Regions from separate parts of the Homo sapiens genome. Here region 1 is linked to region 2. Evidence: fine-mapped QTL for protein levels in blood plasma. Region 2 holds a variant in brackets. A gene starts in the other region. All regions are shown on their forward strands.

Region 1 (4,000 bases), not on the chromosome of region 2:
ATCTTGATTTTTTCTCCACCTTTCCCATCCTGACCTCCATTGTTTTATGTCAAGATGTTACTCCCTCTTGCCTGCATGATGGCAATAGCTTTCTCTGCCCCCCTTCCACTTGTCTCCATCGACCCTGTCCCCACAGTGAGTCATCTAAAATGCAAATCTGACCCTGTAGCTCCTTTGCTTAATAGCATCCTATTGCTTTAGGGCAAAACCTAAATACAGCCCGGCCTGGAGGGCCGGATTGACCTAGCTCCTTCCTATGTCTCCAGCATCATGGCTCAGCACTGCTCCTCTTCCTCATGTTTCTGCTGGGCAGTACAGAATGGCTTACAGTGCCCTTTAGTGCCTTTGACCATGCTGTGTCCTCTTCTGGGAATGCTCCCTCCTCTTCCCTGACTCTCTGCACAGCCTTTCAGACTCAGCTTAGGGGTCACCCCTTCCAGGAGCCTTCCTCAAGCCTCAGGCTGTGTTAATGCCTTATCTGTTTGTTTACTTCCCACTGGAGTCTTTACTACATTGGATTTTCACTTTCCTGGCTTCCCACTCAACCGTGAGCTTCCTGAAGCAGGAACTGTGTCCCTCTGTGTCTATCTTTGGTGCCCAGCACAGTCCCCAGCACTGTCTAAACAAATGAGGGCCACTCGATGGTGAGGTAGGACTCTTACCACAGGTGATTCTGCTCCCCGAGTTGCTAAACTTGTAGCTCAGAAATTTGGTGCCACATCCACGTTTCTCCAGACGTTTGTAGCAACAGTCATGAGTGACACAGCAGCTGTGAGGAGACACCCTGTTGGGGCTCTTGTCCCACAGCTCCAGGAGGCCTGGTGCCTGTGGTCTCACCCCCTTGGACCCTGGGCAGAGACCCAGTGACTTTGCAACAGTCTAGAGCAGAAGTTCCAACATGCCGGCTGCTTTTCCAGCCAGGCCATCCTGAGACCTCTGCGCCCATCAGGAACCGGCACTGTCTTTGCAGCTCCCAGCCCTGCCTGGGCCAGAGTCTAGGAGGGTAGGGAGGGATAGGTGGCCTCACCGATCCGTTGCATCCTTGGGGGATCCTCTGCCACCCACGCCACAGTGGCAGCCGTAGAAGCCATAACTGAGTGCGGCTTCCTTTCCTGTCGTCAACTTGATCATTCTGTGGAAATTCACCAAATTCCCATGGGCCTGCAGTAGGCCTGGAAGGAAATTTGGGAGTTGTCTGGTGATGGGGCATGGGGTTCTGCGCCCTCCCTCTCTGCCCCTCTCTGCTACTCTCCTTCCTCCCAAATGGCTTCTTTTTTCCCCCTGAGAGAGGATCACTGCAATGGGAGAGAAAACTAAGGGACAAGAGTGCTTCCCTTCTGGGGCTGTCCCCCCATGCTCAGAGGTCAGGGTCAGCTCTTACCAAAGATCATGATCACTGCCAACAGTAGGAGGGTCTTCATGGTAAGAGTTCTTGGGTGACAAATGCAGATGGACTGGCCTAGCTCCTCTGCTGGGTGGTCTCAACTTCTGCCCCGGCCGTCGCTCCCCTGCTCCTCCTTGGTGGCTCTGAGACACACAGACATGCTCTCCCATCCAACCTAAGTCCAGGGTGACTTCCTCTGTCACACTCAGAGCACACAAGGAGTGCCCTCCAGCAATGCACACACACACACACACACACACACACAACCACCTCCTGACCCGTTCCCAGCTCTGCAGAATGGTTTCACACACATCAGGCCCTCAGACCTGTGGAGAACCCCATGATACACTAATGAGACCTCCCCTGTACCTCATCAGACTGAGAGTTCTTGGGAGGTTGGAACCAGGTTCCTCCCAACTACCTGGGAGGTTCCTGAGGTCAGAGGATGTGTCCCTCGCTAGACATAGCTTGCATATCCCCACACTGGATTCAAGGCTTGGAGTCTCCAAGGCACCCATGGAGGCTCGGCCTCAGTATTTTCCTCCAGAATGAAAGCATCAACCTCTCTCTTCTAGGCCTTCTAACCCCTTCCACATACACAAGTTCCCAAACACATACATGTTAACACACCTATGCCCACATACACACACTCTCGTACTTACCTGATAGTGCCAACATCCTCTCTTACACTACACTCACATACTCACTCAACACACTCATGCACACACACCCTCTCATACATATCAAATCATGCACATGCATGCACAACACAGCCACTCTCAAAGGCAGCGAATGAGCAGGAATTCTGCTCTTGACAGGACATCAGCTTCGCTGGCTCTTTACCTCTCAGAGGACTCCAGAGTTGTATCCCCAGGCCGTCTTGTTTGTTCTGCACTCCTGCTCCCCTTAAATAGCTGCTCCCTCTGGGAGGTTGGGGGTAGGTGAGGCACAAGGCTGGGGATGGGCGTGGTCAGTTGGTGGACTCAGGATTGGTCGCCCATACCCCTAGGTAATCCCTTTCCTTCCCCTCATCAGCTGGCAGGACAGAGTTGAGGATTGGGAAACCTTACGTGTCAGTAGCTGATGCCAAAACACATTTCAGGCAGTTTTGCAGTCTTTCCATGGAGTAAATTCCCATAACCAGCTCTGGGTGTGATCAACGGTCAGCCACCTCCCTGCAATCGCCTCTAAGGGGGGCAGAGACTGTCTGCTGTTGCAGGCTGTGGACTCATTTGCACACCCAAAGGGACTACCAATTGCTGAGCAAGGATTGCTCCCTTCTGCTCAATGTGGCATTTGGGAATAGAAAAGAGGGCTTTTAGTGGTACTCATTCATTCAGCCGCTCAATCATTCATTCACAGGAAGTATGTCCTGGGCCTCTACCATGTTCCAGCACCTGTGCAGGCCTCACGTGTGCACCCCACAGTCCACCAGGGAGAGAGTTTAATGGGGGTGGATTTCCCTTCCCACTAACTTGGGCCAGGGCCTCAACTTTCTCTTCTTATTCTTCTTTCTTCTTTTCCTCCACCCCTGTCTCATATGAGCTTCTAAACCTGGAAAAAGCCAGAGGCTATCCTTGAAGTTCCCACCAAAGCACTGCCTTCACTTTATTCCCCATCCTCACCTGTTTGGAGACAGGGCAGGTGAATGCTCCCTGGATCTGTTGCTCTTTTTCCTTCAGCCTTCGGGCTGACACTGACTCCAGCTTTAATTCATAAAGTAAATATCTTTTTCATTGCTCTCCAGCACATGCTAAGAATTTAGCTTCCACCGCCTTAAGTAAACACTCTGCGATACCAGTCCTAAAAAAGTCACTGTGGCAGGGGCTGTGGTGCTTGTGAACATTCCATCTGTTCCCTACACTCTAGAGCCCCTTGCAGGGATGGAGACCTAGGGCCCTGCTGCTGACTGGTAAAACATGAGCACTGGTATGAAGGGTCACTTCCAGGTTTCTCCAGCAAGGGGACTATGAGATGCAACTCCCCAGCCCTTCCCTGCCCCACTGGTAGAACCAGAAGATGAAAGCAATCTGGGGTGTAAGAATCATGGCACGGAAGACAGTTGTCCTAGAAAGTCCTGCAGCTCACAGGGGTCTTAGTGTGAGTGAGAAATAGACTTTTGTTGTATTAAGCTGATGATAATTGAGATGGGCAGTTGCTGGAGCATAACCTAATCTATCCCAAGAGCCATCAAACAGCTTTCCTCTCGAGAATACCATTTACCTCCAGTGCTCGACTGTGTAAGGGGTTGGACTGTGGTCCTCCTTCCTGCTCTCAGTTCCTGTGTTGGAGTCCCGGTACCTTAGAATGTGATCTTATTTAAAAATAGGGTCATTGCAGATATAATTAGTTAAGAGGAGATCACTAGGGCAGCTAGGATGGGCCCTAATCCAAGATGACAGATGTCATTACAAAAATGGGAAATTTGGAGACAGGCAGGCACACTGGGAGAAGGCCATACAAAGATGAAGGCAGAGATCAGGGTGAAGCTTCTACAAGCCAAGGAATGGCAAAGATTACCAGAAAACACTGGAAGCTAGGAGAGAGGGATGGAGCAGATTCTCCCTCACAGCCCTCAGAAGGAATCAACCCTGTTGGGCCCTTTGATTTCTGCCA
Region 2 (4,526 bases):
ATGGAACAAAGCCTCCATGTCACCCCAGAGATTACATGCTCACAAACGTTGCAAAGTTTAAAAAAAAAAAAACTAGCTTCCTACAATGTTTCTAATTAAATATCTGCAAATATGAAGACAGCCTTCAATGCTTAAAGATCTTCAGTCCTCAAATTGAACAGATTCTGACATTAGTATTATTTAGACTGCTCCAAAAATTCAGTATCTGCAGTCAGAATCTGTTTCTTCCAATATAGTTGATCATGTTGACATCCTGTCAAGATTCGAGTTAGCCTGAGGTCTCACTGCTTATCTGTGGTGTCACACATCTAGCTGACTCAACACATCACAACATTAGGCACGATATTGCAATAATCATCATTACACTTTTGTTGGGTGAATGTTAACACATTTTCAGGTCATTAAACAAAAGCAATCTATGAGTGTTGAAAGAAAAGATTTATAATGCTCTAGGTGACATGTATTATGTGGGTGGGTCTGTACTGAATATGTGTAGGGTCTTTCTCATATCATGATTCACTAAACAATATAATAACAACTATTTACATAGCTTCTATGATGCATGATGTATTTTAACTAATCTACAGATGATTTAGAGTATACAGGAGGATGTGGGTAGGTTACATGCAAATATTTTTTATTGTTATTATTTTTTTGAGACAGGGTCTCATTCTGTTGCCCATGCTAGAATGCAGTGATGTGATTTTGACTCACCGCAACCTCAACCTCCCAGGCTCAAGCGATCCTCCCACCTCAGCTTCCCTAGTAGCTGGGACTACAGGTACATGTCACCACACCTGGCTAATTTGTGTATCTTCTGTAGAGACAGGGTTTTGCCACATTACCCAGGCTGGCCTCTAACTCCTGGGCTCAAGTGATCCACCTGTCTTGGGCTCCTAAGGTGCTAGGATTACAGAGGTGAGCAACTGTGTCTAACCCAAATATGTCTTTTCTTTCTTTCCTTTTTTTTTTTTTTTGTGTGTGTGACAGAGGTTGTTTTGCTCTTGCTGCCCAGGCTGGAGTGCAGTGGCGCGATCTTGGCTCACCGCAACCTCCGCCTCCCGGATTCAAGTGATTATCCTGCCTCAGCCTCCTGAGTAGCTGGGATTACAGGCATGTGCCATCACATCCGGGTAATTTTGTACCAAATATGTCATTTTTAAAAAAGGACTTGGCATGTGTCGATTTATGTATGCCCAGGGGGTGGTAGAACCACGCTCCTGCAAATATTAGGGGATAACTGTATTTGAAAGAAACTGAGGCTTAAAATTAAGGCTTTACTATGTGTTTACATTCATAGGGTTTATCTCCAATGAGAATTATTTCTATCTGAAATGAAATAACATTAAAGAATACTTCCCTACATTTCACACATTTATAGAGTATCTCTCCAGTGAGTCCTTTTATGTCTATGCAAGGACCTGAGAGAACTCAATGCTTTTCTACATTTCTTACATTCATATGACTTCTCTCCAGAGTGAATCCTTTCATGTACTTTTTTTTTTTTTTTGAGACAGGGTCTGGCTCTGTCGCCCAGGCTGGGGTGCAGTGCATCTTGGCTCACTGCAACCCCCACCCCTTGGGCTCAAGAGATCTTCCCACCTCAGCCTCCCAAGTAGCTGGGACTACAGGGGCATACCACCACACCTGCTACTTTTTCTATTTTTTGTAGAGACATGGTTTCACCATTTTGCCCAGGCAGGCCTCAAATTCCTGAGGTCAAGCAATTTGCCCACCCTAAGTGCTGGGATTACAGGCGTGAGCCACTGTGCCCAGCCTCATGTACTTTTAAGTTACCAAAATGACTGAAGGCTTCCCTACATATTTTACACTCACAGAGTTTTTCTGCTCTGTGAGTTGTTTTATGTTGACAATGGTGTTAAAAAAAAATCGATCACTTTCCCACATTCCTTATATCATACAGCATCTCTCCAGTGTGAGATATTTCATGATTTTGAAAGGAATAAAAATTATGAAAGGCTTTCCCACATTTACATTTATAGGGTTTCTGTCCAGTGTAAGTTTATTCATGATATCAAAGGGAACTGGAAATATAGAAGGCTTTATAATAGTTTACATTCATATTGTTTCTCTCCAGTGAGTCTTTTCATGTCTTTGACATACACTGGGATAAACAAAGGCTTTCCCACATACCTTGCATTTATTCGGCCCATCTCCCGTATGCATTACCATATGTCTTCGAAAGCTTGAGCTATGAGATAACGCTTTCCCACACTGCTTGCATTCATAGGGTTTCTCTCCACTGTGAGACTTTTCGTGTCTTTGACATACACTAGGATAAACAAAAGCTTTCCCACATATCTTGCATTTATGAGGTCCACCTCCAGTGTGCATTATCATGTGTCTTCGAAAGCTTGAGCTATGAGATAACGTTTTCCCACACTGCTTGCATTCATAGGGTTTCTCTCCAGTGTGAATTCGTTCATGATATC[G/A]AACTAAACTGGGACGATCAAAGCCTTTCCCACATATCTTACATTTATGAGGTCGATCTCCAGTGTGCCTTTTCATGTGTATCTGAAAGCTTCCAAGATGATGAAATGTTTTCCCGCATTGCTTACACTCATAGGGTTTCTCTGCACTGTGAGTGGTTTCATGTCTTCGAAGGGAACTGGAAACACTGAAGGCTTTCCCACACTGTTTACATGTATATGGTTTCTCTCCAGTGTGAGTTCTTTCATGTCTTATATAGGAACTGGAATCAGGCAAGGCTTTAGAACACTGCTTACATTCATACGGTTTCTCCCCAGTGTGCATTCTCTCATGTCTTCGATAGGAACTGTAAAAAGGAAAGGCTTTAGAACACTGCTTACATTCATACGGTTTCTCTCCAGTGTGAGTTCTTTCATGCATACGTAATAAACTGGGCCAAAAAAAAGCTTTCCCACACAACTTACATTTATAAGGTCTATTTCCACCTTGCACTACCATGTGTCTTCGAAGGTTTCTACGAGAACTGAAGGTTTTTCCACATTCCTTACACTCATAGCGTTTCTTTCCAGTGTGAGGCCTTCCACGCGACTGAAAGGAGTGATGGTAACTGAAGGCTTTCCCACGTTGTTTATGTGTATGTGGCTTCTCTCCATATTCCTGATACTCATGTGGTTTGTGTCCAGAATCAACTCTGATGTGGCTATTAAGGGATAAATGACCCATTATGACTTCTTCACACTCAGCGCTTTGACATGGATCTTCTCCAGGACAAATGCTGTTGTTCACAATACTATCTCGAATGAGGCTAAATGTTTCTCCACACTGACTACTGTCTTTACTTTCACTGAATCTCTCTACCATATGACATCTGTAAAAAATGAGTAGTACGTTACTAAATAGTTGTTTCTAAATGATTATTTATTTATGTGTATTAATAGGTATTGGATGTACTTTTTTTTTTTTTTCCCTGAGATGGAGTCTTGCTCTGTCACCCAGGCTAGAGTGCAGCGGCACGATCTCGGCTCACTGCAATCTCTTCCTCCCGGGTTCAAGCGATTCTCCTGCCTCAGCCTCCCAAGTAGCCGGGATTAGAGAGGCATACGCCACCACGCCCAGCTAATTTTGTATTTCTAGTAGAGACAGGGTTTTGCCATGCTGGCCAGGCTGTTCTCGAACTTCTGACCTCGTGATCCACCCCCCCTTGGCCTCCCAAAGTGCTGGGATTACAGAAGTGAGTCACTGCGCCTGGCCAGATATACCTTTTTATCATTACCATGCAAAGTGTAGGCTTCATGCCCTGTTTGAACATGAATGAACTGAATGCTATGCAAGACAACCCAACACCAGCTGGGTTTTTTTTTTTTCCTTTTCTTTTTAATTAATTAATTTATTTTTTGAAACAGTATCTTGCTTTGTCACCAGGCTGGAGTGCAGTAGCAGAACGATGGTTCATGCAACCTTGACCTCCTGAACTCAAGTGATCTACCTACTTCAGCCTCATGAGTAGCTGGAACCATAGGTGTGCACCAACACACTTGGCTAATTTTTTTTTTGAGACGGAGTCTTGCTCTGTCGCCAGGCTGGAGTGCAGTGGCGCAATCTCGGCTCACTGCAACCTTCGCCTCCTGGGTTCATGCAATTCTCCTGCCTTGGCCTCCCAAGCAGCTGGGGTTACAGGTGCATACCCCCATGCCCAGCTAACTTTTGTACTTTTGTAGAGACAGGGTTTCACTATGTTGGCCAGGCTGGTCTCAAACTCCTGACCTCAAGTAATCTGCCTGCCTCAACCTCCCAAAGTGCTGGGATTACAGGCATGAGCCACCATGTCCAGCCTCATATGTAAATTCTTATAAAATGTTTTAGGAGGAAATTTTTTAAGAATAAATAAATTTAGGCTGGTGCAGTGACTCACACCTGTAATCCCAGCATTTGGGGAGGCCAAGGCAGGCAGATTGCTTGAGCCCAGGAATTCAAGACCAGCCTGGGAAACATGCCAAAACCCTGTCTCTACAAAAAATACAAAAATTAACGAGGTGTGGTGGCTTGCACGTGTAGTCCTGGCTACTCAGGAGGCT

Alleles and levels. Alleles are on the strand shown, and positions count from the first base shown. The strength of an association depends on the size of the effect and on how common the allele is.
With allele A in place of G in region 2, the plasma level of the protein whose gene starts at base 2,266 in region 1 is lower (weak association).

Evidence for each region. PIP is the chance, under the fine-mapping model, that this variant and not a neighbour inherited with it causes the effect. Protein levels are from antibody-based Olink assays in UK Biobank. Linkage for the fine-mapping came from a reference panel and not from the study's own genotypes, which makes the PIPs less certain.
Region 1: it holds the start of PLA2G2A, and the variant in region 2 is fine-mapped to the plasma level of the PLA2G2A protein (UK Biobank, PIP above 0.99).

The regions. Positions count from the first base shown.
Region 1 is chr1:19,977,353-19,981,352 of GRCh38, forward strand. It overlaps PLA2G2A (phospholipase A2 group IIA), which reads right to left and starts at 2,266. Exons shown (of 5, transcript NM_001395463.1): 1 at 2,228-2,266; 2 at 1,382-1,527; 3 at 1,028-1,172; 4 at 663-769. The coding sequence starts at 1,421. RefSeq lists an enhancer at 910-1,409.
Region 2 is chr19:12,316,515-12,321,040 of GRCh38, forward strand. ZNF563 (zinc finger protein 563) reads right to left here. Exons shown (of 4, transcript NM_145276.3): 4 at 963-3,319. The coding sequence ends at 2,080. Among named protein-coding and RNA genes, the nearest start is that of ZNF563, 15 kb to the right of the region's middle. The variant G/A (reference allele first, on the strand shown) is at 2,454.